Regions from separate parts of the Homo sapiens genome. Here region 2 is linked to region 1. Evidence: fine-mapped expression QTL. Tissue or cell type: whole blood. Region 1 holds a variant in brackets; the other region holds the start of a gene. All regions are shown on one strand. Distances are between the middles of the regions.

What was found. PIP is the estimated chance that this variant, and not a neighbour inherited with it, causes the effect.
Region 2: it holds the start of SUSD3, and the variant in region 1 is fine-mapped to the expression of SUSD3 in whole blood (TOPMed, PIP above 0.99).

What each region holds. Positions count from the first base shown.
Region 1 is chr9:93,022,289-93,032,252 of GRCh38, forward strand. FGD3 (FYVE, RhoGEF and PH domain containing 3) reads left to right here. Exons shown (of 18, transcript NM_001083536.2): 14 at 39-101; 15 at 7,586-7,708. Among named protein-coding and RNA genes, the nearest start is that of SUSD3, 31 kb to the right of the region's middle. RefSeq lists enhancers at 1-482, 2,046-2,838, 2,839-3,630, 6,737-7,238, 7,239-7,738. The variant G/A (reference allele first, on the strand shown) is at 5,220.
Region 2 is chr9:93,053,031-93,062,994 of GRCh38, forward strand. It overlaps SUSD3 (sushi domain containing 3), which reads left to right and starts at 5,671. Exons shown (of 5, transcript NM_145006.4): 1 at 5,671-5,800. The coding sequence starts at 5,713. RefSeq lists silencers at 5,386-5,835, 5,846-6,255 and enhancers at 5,766-6,746, 6,747-7,727, 7,796-7,845, 9,236-9,803.

The DNA.
Region 1 (9,964 bases):
TGGAATCTCCTCTCACTCGGCCTCTGTGTCCCTTCTAGATCACGAGCACCAGCCCTGTGGAGCCTGTGGTGACCACCGAAGGCAGTTCGGGTGCAGCAGGGGTAAGTGCCCCATGCTCAGCGGTCAGCAGGGGTGAAAGGCAGAGCAGGGGGTCAGACCAGGATGACCTATAGGGAAGATGGAGAGGGAGGGTCAGACCAGGGCCTCCTGGAGGCGGAGGGCTGAGGGGCCAGTCTGCCCTGCTCACTGTGACTGGGGGCCTGGGTGTGCGGAGGTGAAGCTATGTCTGAGTCCAGGCACTGATGAATTGTGTGGTCACTGCAGGGGACTCTGTAAGGTGGGCACGCAGAGGCCTGTCAGTGTGGGGATGTCCATTACCTGGTTGGAGGTGGTCACACAGCTGGGCACACATGTGAGAATCTTCTGAGCTCCAAGTGAACATTTATGCTCTTAACATGTGTGAATCGTCCCATAAAGCATGTATTAACAGTGCAAGGTCCTTAGGAGGCTCGGTAATGCAGAGGACTGCTTAGTTCTTCACCCCAAGCAGCGGCCAGGGAGGCCTAAGCCTCCCTGCCTCTCCCCGTCTGTGTTCTCGTGTGCCTTATGGCAGCCAGCCCACAAGGGTGCTGCTCCGGCCAGGCAGACTGTGTCCACGCGCCCGCCTGCCAGGGGATAGGGAACTGGGATAAGGCCTGCCTCCCTCCGTTTAATCTGGGAAGTTAAAGAGGATGAGGGCCAAGAGCATCTGTACCTGGAGCCATCATCATTGGTGCCCAGGCCTGGCACTCACCAACGCTGACAGCAACATCACCGTGGAGCACCCCGATGTGGCTGCTGTGCCCAGATGCAGGAGGGTGATTCTCCAGGTGCCTCGCCTCACCCCATGCTGTGCAGGCCCAGGAATGACATGGCCCCAGATGGCTGCCCTAGCCCCATCCAAGACGGGTCTTTCCAGGTGGGCTGGCCGCTGGCTGCCCCCTCCCATGACCTGAGCTTTACCAGGCCCCACCCATCATGATCTGGGCTGGCCGGGCACTGGGAAACCATGAAGAAACTCAGGAGGCCTCGGGAAAGATGTAGTGCTTCAGGGGCACGACGGAGTGTGGAGGCGTGGGGGGCTTGCACATACATCCCAACGGGCAAGAGGAGAGACCCCAGATTCACAAAGCGCAGCCACCTGGCCTCTGCAGAGCAGACAGGCACCCTGCAGGGACATCTTATTAACACTGAAACGAGGAAGTCTGACACGGGGTGGGCAGCTTGGGGGAAAGTGGTGCCCTGGCCTCCTAGGAGAGAATCTCCTCTCACTTGTCTCTTCTTGTGTCTGGCCTCACCCAGCTTCCTGGCCACCCTCCCCTGAGATGCCCTGGGTTCCCCTTGCCCTGCTAGGCCCCAGGGCCTTGACACCTGCTGTTTGCTCTGTCCAAGTCTATGAAGCCCTGTAGCCTGCCCCGGGGGACCCTGATAAAAATGTCTCAATGACAGGAACCCGCCCATCAGCAACTTTTTTTTTTTTTTTTTTTTTTTTTTGAGACGGAGTCGCTCTGTCGCCCAGGCCGGAGTGCGGTGGCACAATCTCAGCTCACTGCAACCTCCACTTCCCAGGTTCAAGTGATCCTCCTGCCTCAGCCTCCCCAGTAGCTGGGACTACAGGCACGTGCAACCATGCCCAGCTAATTTTTTGTATTTTTAGTAGAGACGGGGTTTCACCATGTTGGCCAGGATGGTCTCAATCTCTTGACCTTGTGATCCGCCCGCCTCAGCTGGGATTACAGGCGTGAGCCACCATGCCCAGCCTATGATGGGAATCCGCCCGTCAGCAACTTTTTGTATTGCCAAACAGTAAGTGTGAGGCTGGCTGTGCCCCAGACTCACAGAGCTCTTTAGGCCCTTTTCTGGAGCATTTAGGAAAGTTATGAAAAGCAATGTGTACTCATAGTGTGAGTGCAGCCACAGAAGCTTGAGCTGCCCACAGTGGACACACAATCGCAGGGTCACAGTGGGGACGTGACAGCCCACACCCATGCATATGAGGCACTGCCTGATCAGCCCCACTGCCTGGAATCCCACAGCCAGGGCAGACATCCCTGACAGTTTCCATGGTGATGCCCTGGCACAGAGCACTGCCTCCCACACACACAGCTCACATAAGGTATGAACTTGGCTGGCCTCTGCCTGATGACCCTCCATGTCCAGCCCCGGGCCCTGGGCCAGGCTTATGGAGACATCCGTGGTCACAGTCCTGCCGCAGAGGCATCAAGGCTCAGTGAGAGCCACCTGTCGTTTGTGAATGCGTCTGTCCTTGGTGTGAGCCCATACGACATGGAGAGGCACCTTCAGTGTCTTGGGTAGGCAAGGAAGCAGAAGTGGGTGGAGGCCACGTGCTGAGGGATGCCCTGGGTGGGCAGGACCTGGGCGGGTTGTAGGAACAGCAGGAGCCCAGGCCTGGCTGAGGGGATCCACACAGGGCGTCTGAGTGTGGGACAGGGTCCTGGGGAGTCTAACCCCCGGGTTGGTGCCCTGACAGGAGAATGTTCTAGCTGGAAGAACCTGCAAGGCCATTGTTTAAAATGTTTTAACTTGTGGGAAGACACAGCTTGGAGATGGCCTTGGAGCAGGGCTTTGAGCAAATGCCGCCTCTTGAGCCTCACTTGGCTCTGGGCAGAGAGATCAGAGAAGCTGTCAGGCGCTGCTGGCCACACAGGCAATGCCCCTATTGGCCGCCTGCCTCCGTCACAGGCGAGAAGGTAATTGGGGCTCAGGGCCTCAGTCAGTGTCCGGGCATCTGCTGGACCAGGCTGTGGCCAGCAGACCCGCTGTGCCTCGATGGGTGCGCCCAGCTGGGTGGACAGCACCGCCTGCCCCACTCCCTTTACTTCCCCTGGCCCAGGGTTCAGCTGCCTCAGGTTCTGCAGCAGCCTGGGGAGCCAGGTACTCAGGGTCACAATTCCAGTTCTGGTCTCTTGTCTCTGTCCCTTACCCACACCAAGCCAGAGCTGGGCCCACGACAGACCACCAAACAACCACAGACCTCAGCTCCAGCCCAGGGCCTCCCTACGAACAGTGGATGTGGCCTGGCCTGGCCCTGTGTTCCTCACTGGTGTCTTCCTGTGAGCAAAAACAGCAGAGTTGAGACTAGGGTAGGAGCTGGGACAGCTCAGTGTCTGTGTCAAGCTGCACAGGGTGAATGTGGTGTGATGGAGGTGAGCTCAGTGTGCGTTTTACAAAGCACTCAAAAGCAAGTTCATTCTCTCATCAACAACAGTGATTTTTGCTACAGTATACCAAACTTCAACTTACTTCCTGAGCCCAATTTCTTCAGTGGTATAGTCCCTGTAAGCCCCTTTCCTAGGAGAAGCTACACCCAAGCCAGGAAGTTTTGCAAGGGGCCTTGCAGAATTCAAAGCCTTCCCTGATGGGCAAGCGTGGAGTTGCTCTTAACAGAAACACAAAATGTCAGAATCCAAAAGGTCTCTTAGGGCCTCAGACCCACCATGGGTGACACACGAACCCCTCCAAGGAGCCAGCGAGGCATCTAAGGGCACCCTTGACAGGCCAGTGCCAGGGCCTCTTCTCAGGCACTGCCCCTCCTGGGACGAGGCCACGCCCTGTGTCCACCCTCGGGGCTCCAGGGCAGGGCTGGAGCAGAGGCATCAGGCCTCAGCCTGGCCACCCTCCTGTTGGAATAGCCCCAGGCAGTGCCTGCGCCTCACAGCCTGTGTCCCCTGCTGGGTCATTTCAAGCAGCTGATGAAACTGACTCGGTTTCATCAGGGCCTCTTACTGGGCTCCAATTCTGTGTAACTCAGCTGTGCCCCCCGTTCCTGGATGTGCAGCTCAATTTGCTCAAGAAAAAATGCTGGAGGGGGCAGCCCCGTTGGCCCTTGGTGGAGACCACTTTCTGGGTCAACGCTGGTGTGTTTTGGGCGCTTTGGGGGTGAAGTCACTCGGTCAGATACTGAGGAAGCCACAGTTCTCCATGTTCCTGGAGAGACTTGGGCCCAGCTTTTCTGATATCCCGACATCCACAACGAAAACCTGAGCTCCCTTTTTTGGGTCAACCTGCGTGGTAACTTCATTCACAAAGGGGCGTGTGCATGGCCGAGAGAGCATCCCTCGCTACTCAGGTGGGCCTCTTGCCTCTCAGCTACTGCGTCATGCCTACAAATTCAGCCACACCTTGATGATGGGAGCTGGAGGGTTGGCCTCGACGGGCTGCGGACCTCAGCTCCATGGGAGCTGGTGCAGGGCCAGGACCCACCCCAAGTGCTCAGCTCAGTTCCATAGCTGGGAAGATTTGCCAGATAAAGGAAGCCAGTGGGACTCCCGGCACTGCCTCAGCCCTGAGCCACACTCACTGCTTCCAGAATTGTCCTCTGTCCCTTCACTGGGACCCGGTCCCACTGGTCCTCAGAGGCCAAGCTCTTGCTGTGCACCCAGCCCCGCAGGTACCTGTCCTCCCACATGGTTGTTCTTTGCTCCTTCAGCCCCTGCTGCCCCCTGCCCCATGGGCACGCCCTGTGTTGTTCTCAGCTACCATGCAGTGCTGCCCCTGGGTGCCGTGGCCAGGGTCCCCCTTCCGGGGTCAAGAGCAGGCAGTTCTGGGCTGAGGTGCACATCGGGGCTGCCCTTCCACTAATCACTCCCACTTCCCAGCCTCTCTGGGTGCCCACCTGGAGAAGAGGTTTTTGCCGCCAGGTCAGTGATGCCCATTCCCCACCTAGTGTGCTTGGAGCCCCCACTGTGGTCTTGGGTGTGAGAGAAACTGCAGAGGGAGCCCAGGCCGCCTCACCTGTGTCTTTGGAGCAAGGCCCATTCAACAGAGGTGCCGGGGGCTGCAGCACAGCGAGTGAGAGTCCCTGTCACCCTCAAGCCAGCCCTGCCCTTGGGCTCCTGTGCCAAGCAGGACAGGTGCTGGGGGGACCTGCAGGTGGGCCAATGAACGGGGACCACAAACCAGGCCACACAGCTGGAAGTGCCCGGCCAGAATTTGCACAGAGGCACTGGTGTCAGTTTGTTGGGGCTGCCAGAACAAAATACTACCTGAGGCTGAAGTCTGAGATCAAGGTGTGGGTAGGGTTGGTTTATCCTGAGGCCTCACCTTGGCTTGGAGATGTCAGTTTCCTCCTTGTTTCCACACATGGTCTTCCCTCTGTGTCTCTGTGTCCTCATCTCTTCTTATAAAGACACCAGTAAGATTGAATCAGGGCCCAACCT[G/A]AGACCTCATTTTAACTTAATGTCTCTTTAAAGGCCCTGTCTCCAAATATAGTCACATTCAGAGTTACTGGGAATTATATTTTCAACATACGAATTTGGGGGGACATAGTTCAGCCCATCACAGCCTCCAATGCTTATGCCCAATCTGAGCCACCCCTTTCTTGCTTCTTCACCCCCAACCAGTTCAGTTCATCTTTTTCTTTCTTTCTTTTTTTTTTTTTTTTTTTTTTGAGTTGGGATCTTGCTGTGCTCTCCAGGCTGGAGTGCAATGGTGTGATCACAACTCACTGTAGCCTTGACCTCCCAGGCTCAAGCGATCCTCCTACCTAAGCCCCCCAAATATCTGGGACTACAGGCACGTGCCACCACATCAGCTAATTTTTTGGATTTTTGTTGAGACGGGGTCTCACTATGTCGCCCAGATTGGTCTCGAACTTCTGGCCTCAAGCAACCCTCCCGCCTCAGCCTCCCAAAGTGCTGGAATTACATGTGCGAGCCACTGCGCCTGGGCCTCCTTCTCCTTAAACCTGAAGAGTTTATGTTAAACTTTTTTTAAGCGTATGTTGTTTAGCATTTTCCTAAGGCAGTTTTGGACCCATACAAGTGGGGATAACCGCAATGAGTATCCCTCCCCAGCTCCAGAAACCTCAGCCTGGTGCTGTTCTTATGGCCCCTCAGCCCCTAGCCCCGACACACACACACACACACACGCACACACACACACACACACCCCAATTTTCTGTAATATTTTAAAGCATATCCCAGACCTCTTTTTATTCTGCTCAGCTACAGTAATGGTAAGCTTATTTTAGGTAGTTTTCTTTTAAACAGGAAAAAAAAAAAAAAAGAAAGAAAAACACCTGCAGGCTTCAGTTTCCCTGACTGGAGAGGTTGAGATAAACATTTCTAGTGGCAGTTCCAGCTCTGACATCCTGGGGAACTCGATACATATCTTTGCCTTTTCCTAAAGTCTTCTTAACAGTGGTTTCGGCACCCATAACAAAGTGTCTCAAGGGAGGCACCTCCTCCCCAGAGAGGAAATGCTGGGTGTGGACCAAGCTTCAAAAGCCCAGGAAGTTATTTCATCAAATGATGGGGCCTTTCCAGGGGTTGCAGGCTATTGTAACAGGAAACGGTAATTAGCAACTTGCCAAACGCAGTCGGGGTTTTATGTACTGTGATGAGGCTTACGACCCAGGGACCAGTCACCCATCCCATTTTACAGGTGAGGAAACTGAGGCTCAGAAAGGAGAGGTGAGTCATCCAGGGTTGCAGGGCTGACAGGAGGCAGGAGACTGGGGTCTCTCCACCTGGCACTGTTCATAATCAGACAGGGAAACCAAGGCTGGACTGGGCAGCCCCAGGCTACACCTGCTCCAGCCTCCACACCACCCTCCTCTGTAGGCAGTTCAGGCACAGGAGACAGAGGAGGGTACAGCCCCTGACCCTGGCCTCAGCTCTTCATGGCTTCCTCACATGTCCTCACAGTTTTTTTTTTTTTTTTTTTTTTTTTTTTTTTTTTTTTTTTTTGAGACAGAATCTCGCTCTATAGCCCAGGCTGGGGTGCAATGGCGGGATCTCAGTTCACTGCATCACTGCAACCAACCTCCGCCTCCTGGGTTGAAGCAATTCTCCTGCCTCAGCCTCCCGAGTAGCTGGGATTACAGGCACCCACTACCACTACCATGCCCGGCTATTTTTTGTATATTTTTTAGTAGAGGTGGAGTTTCACCATGTTGGCCAGGCTGGTCTCAAACTCCTGACCTCAAGTGATCTGCCCACCTCAGCCTCCCAAAGTGCTGGGATTACAGGCATGAGCCACTGCGTCCAGCCTCCCCCTAAAATGTTGCCATGCTTGTCTGCACACTCAGGCATGTGGGTGCACACCTATATTCATCCATGTGGCGTGCCTGGAGGGTGTGGCCCGCGGTGCCCAGTATAGAGCAGGCGCATGGCCACACGGCTCCAGTTGCAGACAGGGATGCCCCCGTCCCCAGGGCTGCAGGCCATGGCTGTGCTGCCCACTGCCCACCCTAGTAAGTGCTGTGTTCCTCCAGCTGTGGCTCCTTTCAATAGTTTCTCAGATGCACCAGATAAAGTCATTGGCCAAGTTGTTCCAAACATGAAGATCTTGATCCACTTAAAATCTTTACTCGGTGCCATGGGCACAGGCAGCCGCTGGGAGGTGAGGGAGGGAAGAGAGACGTGGCTGACTTGGCTCTTCACTTCATTCCCTTCTGCATGTTCCACTTTTTGCCTTGAGCCTGTGTGGCTTTTACAGTCACGAGAGCTGCCACTCCACTGCCGTGTGGGGTAGGGTGCACACATGATTCAGAAGCTGATGGCATCTATTTGCCTCCTTATAGCTCGAGCCCAGAAAACTATCCTCTAAGACCAGACGTGACAAGGAGAAGCAGAGCTGTAAGAGCTGTGGTGAGACCTTCAACTCCATCACCAAGAGGAGGCATCACTGCAAGCTGTGTGGGGCGGTGAGTCCCGGGAGAGGGGGACAGGGACAGGAGGCCACCCTGTCCTCTGCTCTGACAGAGCAGCTGAGTCCTCACCAGCAGCACACCAGCCATGCACACCAGCCCTGCACGGAAGGGCTTCCTGATCCTGGCTCATGGATATAGATACCCTTGAGTGCAAAACTGTCCTGTCCGAAGTAGAATCAAATCACTTTTCTCTGGTCAGCTCTGGTGTTCAACAAACACTACTTGTGGTTGAAAAAGTGCTGGATTTGGAACCAGAGAACCCCTAGCTGGGTGACCTTGAGAACAAGGAGATGATAGTCCTCATTCCTTGCAAGGTGTATTGGAGACGGGTGAAGGGTGTGGCTGTGCTGGAAGCTCCTACTGCTGGCCTTTGCCCCAGCGCTCCAGTGGTGCTGAAGGCCTGGTGGGCCCATGTGATGAGGCAATGCCTCCGACTGGCGCCCCAGCTGCACACCATCTCCATTCCCCTCACTCCAAAGCCCTTTCTCCTGAGAATGGAGAAAATTCAATGCTTAATGTTGAATGTAAAAGTATCCCTGAGGAAGGAACTGATCATTTAAGTATCTTTAGGTTAAGAGATTAAAGTTGAATCTGTGTTAGCAACTGGATCTCAGCACAGAATGCTTTGGAGGTGTTTTTCCAAAGGGCACCAGCAACCTGTGCCTGAAGCGGTTGATGTTGCTTGTCATACCTTTGCCACATGGCGGGGGGGCAGCAGGGGGGGGGGAATAAGTAGATGAGTCCTTGGAAGGATGGATGATGGATGGGTGGGTGGGTAGAAGGATGGATGAATGGATGAGTGGTTGGAGAGGTGGGTGTATCAATAGGTAGATGGATGCGTGGATGGATGGATGAGGGGATGGATGGATAGGTGGGTAGTTAGATAAATGGCATATGGAAGTATGAATGGAAGTGGATATATAGGAAGTATAAATGGATGACTGGAGAATTGATGGATGGATGGATGGATGAACAGACGAATAGTTGGATGGCATACGGAAGTATGGGTGGATAGATGAATGGTTGGATGGATGGATGAATGAATGAGTGGATAATGAATGGGTGGATGGATGGATGGATGGGTGGATGAAGGGATGATGGATGGATGGATGATGGATGGATGAATGTATGGTAGAGGATGGATGGGCAGGCAAGTGGGAAATGTGATCTGTGCCTCTTAAAGAACTCTCAGTTTGGGACCCAGTTTGTACTCTAGAATTGGGGGATTTAACTCAAACCTGGTTTCCCCATCAGACCTGAGGAGAGAATCTGTTGCTTTAAGAGCCATCCTCAGAATACATGCCCAGGTCCCTGCTCAGCTCCAGGCTTCAGGCTTTGTGACTACTCAGGATCAGAAGCTGCAGCCTCCATTAATCTTCCTTGGAGTGAGCGTCCTCATGGCCAACCTGGACTTCCCCAGCAGAGGTGGCTCGGTGCCCTCAGTGACATCACTGCATCTCCGTGTCAGCCTGCTGGGGCTTAGCTTGGCTTTCATTGCCTTGGTTTGCCCGGTATTCCTGCTTCCTCACACAAGAAGTGATAGAGAAAAGAGAAATTCCAAAAATAAAATGCTCATAAAAGGAGGACTCCAGAAGAGGGTGCCTTCCATCTACTTGAAAAGAGCAATCTCCCCTCTGCTGTGGCTCCTGAGACCTGCGATATGAGCTCAGTGTTTGAGTGCCATGGTCCCTTAGCAGCCAGTGCCTGCAGGTTTAGGTTCAAACTAGAATTTCCCAAGGTTTGAACAAGGACCTCCAAGTCCTCTGCAACATTCAGTACGTGGGGCAGGATGGAACAGGAGAAGCAGATGCAGAAGTGGGTGTGGGTGGCCCTGAGACAGCAGGAGCCTCTTTGTGCTGGGAAAAGGATCCAGCAGAGGGAGGGAGACCGAGGCAGAGAGAGACAGGACCACCGATGGGATGCAGCTGCAGGGGCCAGAGGAGGGGGCACAAAGGGGCCTGCTGGGAGTGTCCAGGGTAGGAAAAGCTCTGGAAAAGTCACTGAGGAGCACTCCTTGGCTAAATTCCCATGCTCCACCCATGCATCTGAATCACATTCCACTGTACAGACAGACCATGACAACTTCATCCATTCATCTGCCGATGGACACGGGTTGCTTCCAGCTTTTGGCTATTGTGAATAACGCTGCTATGGACATGAATGTACAAACATCCCTTCAGATCCTCCTTTCAGTTCTTGTGGGTACATACCCCGAGTGGAACTGTGGCATCATATGGTAACTCTGTGTTT
Region 2 (9,964 bases), 31 kb after region 1:
AGGAATGCCTTCTCCAAAGGTATAAGCCAGGGAACCTCAGCAGCCTGAGCAGAGACTCTGAGATTCAGCGGCATGGCTGCCAGACACACTGCACCTGCCCCAGGCTGTCAGGACCCTCTGATTCAGCCCTTTTTGAGAGGAGGTGGGGAAACTGGAGCCCAGGGGGTGTGGGCTTACCTGAGGCCACCAGAGGGCTGGTGAAGAGGCAGGATGAAAACACGCTGAGCCTGGGGGCTGGTGAGGGCAGAGCAGCCACTGCTCTTTCGGGGGCAGGGTGGGAGCTGGCAGGAAGCCTGTGGGGAGGGAGGAGGCGAGGCTCTCACCCTTCTCCAGTGACCAGGCACTTGGCGGCCCACGCTGCTCGCTACGCAGGTGCCGGGCATCAAAGAAGCTTAACTGGCTCTTCAGCATTAAGCCTCGGGCTGCCCTTGACCCACCTGTGCACCCCCTGACCTGCCAGCTTAACTGGGAACAGCTCCAGGCCAATGAAAGCACAACCCCCCACCTGAAATCCTATGCTTGGTTGTAACTCCTTAGAGCATGGTAATGCCGTGTAATCCTAGCAGCCGAGGACCCAGGTCAGTCCACATCTTTCCCGACAAGTGAACATCAGAATGGCCGTGGGAAATTTTGCAATAGTTTACATTTACAAAGCATTTAAAATCCTTGTTTCTTATCAGAGAATAGATACATGCTCATTGTGGAAAATTCAGAAAGTACAAAAAGAGTTGAGGGGTGGGAAAAAAGATGACCTGCTATCTGCCAGCCCAGTGGTGGCCAGGTAAAGGCCTTGGTGTGCAGGATGAGCATGGGGGGAGCAGCCCCTGGCCAGAGTTTGTCCCTCCTAGGCCCAGCTGTATCCCAGCTTCTAAACTGGCCTGGCATGCAGTAGGTGTTTGGTAGTAGCTGTTCCATGAATCTGTCATTCCTTCTGCCCTCTGGGCGCCTTGCTTTGTGTCTCTGCATCACCATTTCTGAACCTGAGGGCGGCAGCTCGATGTCATGTCACCCAGGCTGACTGATCTGCTTGTGCAGGCTGCAGCCAGGTAGGACAGTCTGGTGGTCACAGCTCAGGCCCCAGCAGGGGAGTACCCCCGGGGAGGGGCCTTTGTCGCTCTGCACAGTGGGGACAGGGCTCTTGCCTTGCTTTAGGAGGATAAGTGGTGGGTGTTGAGGGCTCCAGATGGCCCAGCAGAAAACATTTTTGGGAAAATTGTTTTCTCTGCAAACATCTGGCCTGCTAGAGCTTCAAGGTCAGGTTACTTTTTTTTTTTCTTTTTTTGCTTTTAGTTTTTAAAAGGTAATACAGTTTTTAAAAAGAGAGGACACCCATGAGGCCACCAATGCTTCCCTGACTCTTACCTTTTGCAAAAGAACTTTCTGGACGTGGTCTATTGTGAGAGGTTTTCAGAACAAAAATCTCATTTTTCTATTGAGTAAAAACTAAAATCAAGAATAAAGCAAAACAGGCTGGGCGCAGTGGCTCACACTTGTAATCCCAGCACTTTGAGAGGCCAGGGAGGGTGCATCACCTGAGGTCAGGAGCTCAAGACCACTCTGACCAACATGGTGAAACCCTGTTTCTACTAAAAATACAAAAATTAACTGGGCGTGGTGGTGCATGCCTGTAATCCCAGCTACTTGGAAGTCTGAGGCAGGAGAATTGCATGTACCCAGGAGGTGGAGGTTGCAGTGAGCTGAACTCATGCCACTGCAATCCAGCCTGGGTGACAGAGCAAGACTTTGTCAAAAAAAAAAAAAAAAGGCAAAACAAACTGTTTTAGATTTCCACAATTATTATCTAATTTTAGAAAAACTCACCAAGCCAAGAACTCTGCCACCACCAGACTTCTGCATGGGTCCCCTCCCAGGCCACCATGGCCCATGGGTGCTGAGTCAGGCAAATCAAGGGTTGAGGAAGGCTTCCTGGGGGTGGCAACACCTCAGCTAAGGTCTGAGGAAAGAGGAAACTCCCAAGCCAGACCCTCACCTTCCTCTGGAAACCTCTGGCAGCGCACAAGACCCCCATGTTACAGAGTGGAACACTGAGCCCCAGGGCTGGCAGGCCTCCCCTGCCTCCCAGGTTCCATCCAACAAGTGTCCACTGACAGTGCACTGTGTGCTCCCAGTTGCAAATGGAGCTGGGAAGAGGCTGTGGCTTTGGTCAGTTCCTCAGGCTGTGCCTGACTCTGCTTCCTTCTCCCGGCCTGCCTCACCAGCAGCCAGCAGCCCATCCGTTCCTCCTAGCCTCCTCCCCTGCCTCCTCCAGCAGGGAAGCCCATATGTTTTGCGTTTTTTTTTTTTTTTTTTTTTTTTTTGAGACACAGTTTCCCTTTGTCACCCAGGCTGGAGTGCAGTGGTGCAATCTCAGATCACTGCAACCTCCGCCTCCTAGGTTCAAGCAATTCTCGTGCCTCGGCCTCCCAAGTAGCTGGGATTACAGGTGTGTCTGACCTCAAGTGATCCTCTCGGCCATATCCGGCCACATGTCCATAGCTCCACACCTGGCCACATGTCCTCTTCATTTCAGAGACGTGACACAGGCTGAGCAGGCCTTAAGGACAGGCAGCACGAAATGGCTCTGACAGGGAGTGCCATCAGGGAGGGCTCCATGGAGAAGGAGGGTGAGGAAGGCAAGGAGACACACCCAAGCAGGCAGAGCCTAAGCACTGCTCCCAGTTTGTGCCTAGACTTGGAGAGTCTGGGAAACCAGGCAACTAGGACAGCTGAGCGGGTGGGCCAAGCTCAAAAGCTGACGGGCCTTCACAGTCCAGCTTAGAGGCCACCACTCCATCCTGAGCACATCACAGTCTCTCACTTGCCTTGAGAGGGTGGCAGGACAATGTCCACCCCTCAGATGAGAACACGAAGACTCAGTGCAAGGGTGCCCACCCCTGCCCCAGGGATCAGGGAAGCCTGTCAGAGAGCCATGGTTCTCACCATGGAAGGGGGCACCCCAGGCGGTTGTCCCTAGTGGGCCAGTGCCGTTCTTTTCACATGCCTCAGTTTCGCCCACGTGCATGGCTAGAATAGCTGGGCTTTCTAGGAGCAAACCATTCCAAGGGCCTGGGAAAAGGTGGACAAGATGGCCCTGATCAGTGTTCAAATAGGTGACAGGCCCACCTCCAGAACCAGCCTCAGATCCCTCCCATAGCTCCTGAAGATGGCCTTTTGGCAGCAAATGGGTGTTCTGAGCCACAGCAAGGCATACAGTTCCCTGTGGAAACGACATGACAGAGGTCCTTAGGCCACCTCCAGGTCCCCTAACAGTACAAATGGAGGCCCAGCGCCACAAGCCTGAATGTCCACAACCCAACCAAGCGACAGACTGCTCAGAAAAACATGCTCTTTCCTCCTTGATCCCACCTGTCAGGGGCTGAACTGTGTCCCCCAAAATCTATATGTTTAAGTCCTAACCCTCAGTACCTCCAAATATGACCTTATTTGGAGACAAGGTCTTTACAGACTCTTCTTTTTTTTTTTTTTTTTCTTGAGATGGTGTCTTGCTCTGTTGCCCAGGCTGGAGTGCAGTGGCACAATCTCAGCTCACCACAACCTCCGCCTCCCGGGTTCAAGTGATTCTCCTGCCTCAGCTTCCCAAGTAACTGGGACTACAGGCACGCGCCACCATGCCCAGCTAATTTTTGTATTTTTAGTAGAGACAGGGTTTCACCATGTTGGCCAGGCTGGTCGCAAACTCCTGACCTTATGATCCACCTGCCTCTGCCTCCCAATGTGCTGGGATTACAGGCGTGAGCCACTGAGCCTGGCCGGTCTTTACAGACTCTTTATAGGGTCTTAAGTTAAGATGAGGACATTACGGTGGGCTCTAATCTAATATGACTGGTGTCCTTAGAAGAGAGATTTGAACACAGAGAGACACAGGGAGAGCACCATGTGTAGACAGGAGTTAAGTTGCCACCGGCCAAGGAACTGCCAGAAGCTGGATGATACAAGGAAGGCTGTTCTCCTGGAGTTTTTGGAGGGACTGCAGGCCTGCCGACACCCTGATCTCAGACTTCTGGCCTCCTGAACCATAAGACAATAAATTTCTGTTGTTCTCAGGCACCCAGTCTGGGGTACTATGTTACACAGCTCTAGGAAACACACTTCCTAAATGGCCAGGTGTTTAGCATTTGAAGGCTCCTGAAGGCCTGGGTCACAGCGTGGTGGCTTAGGGAGCTGCAGGCAGCCTGGTGTTTTCCATCCCCACCTAGCTCCACCCAGCTATTGGAGGGCTGCCCCAGACCTCCCTCCCAGCCCTGTCCATGCACCTACAGGCAGTGGCCTTCTGCCTGGTGGTGCATGGTGGGCAAAACCAGGGAAGGGACCACACAGGCCTGAGAGGTGGGCTAGGGGCCACTTGGCAAGACATTCTGGGGTCCCAGAGTGTGGTCTGGAGTGGGCACTGCTGATGGCCCTGCCCTTCCCGACATGGCAGAAAGAATACACATGCTTGATTTTGAATAAAGGAGATTGAAGTAAGCCATCGTGTGTGACCCACAAGTCCAAGTGGGAAGAACATATCAGGGGTGACGCCAACCCTGATGGCGAAAGGGGGAGGGCCCCTCACGTTTCACACTGAACCTCAGCTTTGGAGGGCTCGGAAAGCAGAGACGGGGAGGGGCTGCCCTGCTGGAACCCTGCTTCATGGTCCACCTGAACATCCACACTCTTCACGGTCACCTGCCAGGCACTCTAGAGCCAGCCTGGCCCACCTGGGCCACCTTCTGCGCTCCTGGAGGCATGCCTAAGCCAGCCGCACTGGGCTTCTGCTGCCACACATTGCCAAACCAGGGCCTTTGCACCTGCTGTTCCCTCTGCCAGGATTGCCTTTGCCAGCTCCACAGGAATAGGCATGGCTCAGGTGGTCTCCCACAAGCAGCCCAAGATCCAGGATGTCTGAGGCCTGACACCACACCCAACCCTTTGGTGGCTGCCTGGGCAGGGGGCTAAGCCTGGGTTGGGTGGGGTCAGAGGGAGAGAAAGAGCCCGGATCACAGCTCTGGGCCTGCTGCAAGTGGAGCTGGGTGGGAAGGGGAAGCCAGGAGAAGGGAGGCCTCCAGGTGTGGTGGGCCCTGCAGACAGACCCCAGGGCTTTCCATCCTGTTTCCCCCAGCCGGGGGCCCCTCAGTGAGAACCGAAGACAACAAGGGCACCCAGACCTCAGTGTGCCTCAGACGGCCTGGCCCAGTGAGAGACAGGGAAAGAAGGCTGGGTCCACACAGGACTCTGGGGGTGAGTGGGTTACGGGAGGGGCGGGCCGGGGAGGCGTTTTGCTGTTTGCCCTTTGGTACCGGCCGAATCCGGCACCCTGAGAAGGCAAAATCCTGCTCAAAAAATAAAAACACAGAAGCACATGGAAAAACCACACTAGGAGTGAAGGTGAGAACAGGAAGGGATGGGGGAAGGGTGTTGGGCAGAGGTAGCCACGCGTGCAACGCCCCGGAGTAGCAACACTTTCCGCTCAGCCGGCTGCCTTGGCCCGCTGGGTATTTGGTCTCCCCAAGGGCCCCCGCCCACAGCCCCCGGCCGGACCTCGGCCCCAGTCCAACGTGTGGGCGTGGTCTGTAAGTTGCATGGAACCGCCCCTGGGCGGGCGTGGAGGGCGGGGCCTCCCCGCCCCTCACCCAGGCCCAGGCCCAGGCCCCGCCCCCACAAGCCGGGCTCACTCCCCTGGCAGACCCCGCCAAGCGCCTCGGAGCGCGCAGGATGCGCTGGGCGGCCGCCACCCTCCGTGGCAAGGCGAGGCCCCGGGGGCGGGCCGGGGTCACCACGCCTGCCCCAGGGAACCGCACAGGTGAGGGCTGGGGCCGAGTGGCCGCGTGCGGGGCTCTGCGCCCATTTCACAGACGGGAAAGCCGAGGGGAGGGGGTCGCGGGGCCGCACAGCCGTGGGTGGGGGCCACAGCAACGATCTGCCCCGAGGACGAACCTCCTCGACCCTCCGCCGGCCCAGCAGGCGCCCTAGCGGAGCCGAAGCCTGGCAGCGAGCAGTTCGAAACCAGGCGGCTGCACGCAGCAGCCCGCGCGCCCGTTCCCGAGTGGCCGCAGCGCCTTGGTCCCGGGCGTCTGCGGACAGCGCGGCCGGCCAAGCCTCTCCACGCCGCAGGCTCCGGGCCCCTCCGCGCCCCTCCCGGGGAAGTCGAAACCGGCCTCACCTGGCGGGCGGGTGGCGCGGGGGCGGGAGGGGGGAGCCGGGAGCCCTCTCTGCGCCTGAGGGAGGTGTCATCTTCACGATTCCTTGGTGACCAGCGCAGCTCCACTTTACAGATGGAGAAACTGAGCCTGCGAGAGGGGAGTGGCTGTCCGAGGTCACCCTGTAGCCAGGCTTGGGATCGCCTCGGCTGTCTCGGAGGAGGCTCAGAGGCCTTTGGAAGGAAGAGAAGCTGCTTTTTATTTTACTTTTAAGTGTTTGAATTCAAGAATGTGCTTAAAGAGTTGTCTGCTCCCGTGCCCAAGGCTCCGGGGTTCGAATGCTGGCCTTGCTCCTTGAATGATTCTAAAGTCTAACCCTTTTAGAAACGGAACCAAACCGGAACTCTGGGTCTCAGATATCCCAAAAGCTTACTTCCGCGGCCACTGCCCACGAACGTTAGGCCTGAGGGTTCTGGGCGTCTCAGGCGTTGCGGGGCTAAGGCTCTGCGCAGGAGGAAGCTGAGGCCCGGAGTGGGGTGGGCTGGACCAGGTCACACTGTCAGCCTGCAGCCCCAGGGAACTGGCAGGAAGGTGGCAGGAGAATGGCTTCCTCTCACAGTTGGGGAAACTGCGGCTCAGGGAGCTAATTCACCGAGCAGAGGTCCGCAGCTCAGCAAAGTGGGCGCTGAGACTTGTTCCTGGCGCTGGTGGATTTGGTTTATTTAGTTTGACTCTGGCAGCCTAATGTCCAGAGTCCCTAATTTGGTGTTGGGGTGATGAGCACTTTTGCTCCTGTGTTTGAGCAAGGCCTGCCCAGGGCCTGGTACTACCTGAGGAGCCCCTTCTACTGGCACAACAGCCTGGGGGCGTGGGTGCCAGTGCCCTTTGGATAGCCTTGACTTGCCCAAGGTCAGCCCAAGGCCAGGGAGTATCTGGAGGCTCTGGCATATTTGCATACAAAAGGCTGTTTGCCTTGGAATTTGTGCTGGGAATGGAGCTTAGTCTGGCACCCTGTGCTCTTGTTCATCCTGCCTGGCCCTGGCTCTGCCTCTGACCACCATGACCACTTCCCAGGCACTGGCCCCCTTGTTGGAGTTTTGGGTTAGGATCCCCCCTGTGACCTGGGGTGAGTCGCTGTACCTCTGTGCCTCAGTTTCCCCATGTGCCCCAGTTTCCCCACTGTATACCTGCCCCCAAGCTTGTGGACAGGCCCAGTGGAGCCCAGGGAGGGTACTTGTTCTGGTGCAGGGATGATGCCATCATCTGGACTCCATCACTCCCCTGCCATGTGACCTCAGTTTCTTGCTCTGTGAAATGTGCTGTGAAGTTAGAGGCTGGGGGGTTGGGAGCCTTTGGAGAGGATTTGACACTAAAACACCACTGACCAGGAGTGGTGGCTCATGCCTCTAATCCCACACTTTGGGAGGCTGAGGTGGGCGGATTGCTTGAGTCCAGGAGCTCGAAACCAACCTGGGTAACATAGCAAGACCCCGTATCTACAAAAAATGCAAAAAAAAAATTAGCTGAGCATGGTGGCATGCGCCTGTAGTCCCAGCTATTCGGGAGGCTGAAAGGTGGAAGGATTGCTTTCGTCCAGAGTTCGAGGCTACAGTGAGCTGTGATCACCTCACTGCACTCCACCCTGGGCAACAGAGCGAGATTCTGTCTCAAAACAAAACAAAAACCAAAAACATAGCACGGGGATGTGTGTTTTTCCCACCATCTTTAAAATGGGGCCATTACCACTGGTTTTCCTAGAGTAGATATGAAGAGCACAGTAGTGTGGACAGACTGATCTTCCTGAGAGGCAGGAAGTGGTCTTCCCTCATCTCCCATGAGCGCCCTGGGAGAAGGGCAGGGCGCGGGGGAGACTAGCTCAGAGTAGGAGTTTATCATGTTTGTTGTATGACTGGCCCCTGGCCCTGCTCCCAGGTCAGCCCCAGCACTCCCTGATCTGGGAGATTGTCCAGGAAAGCAGGGTTCCAGTGGCTGTAGGTAACCCCCCTGGCATCCGTGGAAGGGCCTTGGAGGAAGGGCCTGGAGAGGGGGTAGCAGGAGGCATGCTCTGCTGGTGCCTTCTTGGCTTCACCCCTGAACTCCTGCCCCAGAACTGGACTGTGTCCATTTTACAGAGGAGAAACTGAGACCCCGTGAATGCATGTGTAAATCAAAGCAAGGCAGACACACCCTGTGATGCCTGGCTATGGCCTCCTGCCACCCATTGGCATCGAAAGAGCTGCTGGTAGAAGGCATAGGTTCCCGGACCCTCGGTTTTCCACCAGGGATGTGGGAGTACATGTTCCTCATTTGGAATTAGCCCAGCTCTTTTATGGAGGATTGTGTGCTTTCCACATCCTGAGGCCACCCTGCTGCTCAGCCTGGAGATGGAAGGCAGAAGTGGCTCTGAAGCCTGTGCTCACCCTCCATGTGGAGATGGGCTCAGAGAGGGCAAGTGACTTACCTGAAGACACACAGCCAGGGCTGTGGGACACCCACATGTAGTGTTGGGGCCAGGCCTGTCCCCACTGCCAGGGTCTTGGGGGTCCTGTTCTCAAAGCACCTCTGTGTGCAAAAGTCACCCCCTTTAAACTCTGAGAAATTCCTCCTGAAGGTTCCTGTTTCACATTTGGGGGAACTGAGACCCAGATTGAGGTCACACAGGGACTCACTGGCAGGTGGGGATCGAGTCTAGGTGAGACTGGGTTCAGCAGCCTGCCTCTGTCACTCTCTCCCACAGCCTCAGCCAGCATAAAAGGGAACATAGTTACTTAATCCCACAGCAGGCGAGGTCAGGTTATAGGGGCTGTGTGGCGAATCCCAGGAGGGAGGATGGAGGGGCCGACCTGAGGTCCAAGGTTCCAGATAAAAGATTAACAAGTACGGATTGTTCTCAGACGCCCGGCTGGCCTCACAGGCTGGGAGGATGAGAATCCACCCGGTCAGGCTTGGCCCCCTCCGTACATAAGGCCAGGGAGGGAGGAAGCGCAGCTGCAGCAGGTGGCCAGGCAGAGGCGCAGGCGCGGCATGTGGGCTGAGGGCCGCTCAGGCATCACACAGGTGTGGCCCTGAGGTACCCATTGGTCCTCTCCACCTGCCCCTGAGCCGTGGGAGGGCCAGGCAGGGCCTCGTGTGTTTTTATTTTGTATCTTGTTTGCATCAAATCCGTTTTCTGTTGTTTTTCCCTCTTCTTTAAGATTTACATGCAAAGGGATCTAAAGGGTGCCAGGTAAGAAATGCCCCAGCACTAGGCTGGCAGACCAAGGGCAGCCACAACCATGGGCTGGGGAACAGCAGGTGGGTAGGATGGGGCTGGAGGGCAGGACGGATCCAGAGAGGCAAGGCCTCTGCCTCCAGCTTTAGGGAACAGACATCCTCAAAGACAGCTGGGGTGTGGGGTCCTCTGCAGGGGTGAGGCACAGGAGGGCCATCTGCAGGCAGCTGGGAGTTCATGAGTATTTGAAGCAGGGGAGGGGACAGGGGACAGATGGGATCTGCCTCTCATGCATCAGGCATGGGGAGGGGCTCAGGAGGTCAGTGAGGGGTGGCCCTGGGTCCCCTGGGAGTCCGGGAGTCTCTGTGTGAGCAGGACTTGGCTGTGCGGTGGTTAGAGACAAGGGTGATCCACCAGCTCCATCCTCATGCCTTGGTGATTTCTTGGAATGTCCCTGGGAGTTGGGTGCAGGTAGAGACTTTGTAGACCATAGCTCCTGGCACTGTGCTGCCTGCCTGCCCCATCCTGGCTGTGAGTTCGCTGTGAATCCTACGGAATCCTGGCTGTGAGTTCGCTGTGAATCCTATGGAAAGGGCTACCCCAAGGGGACAGGAGT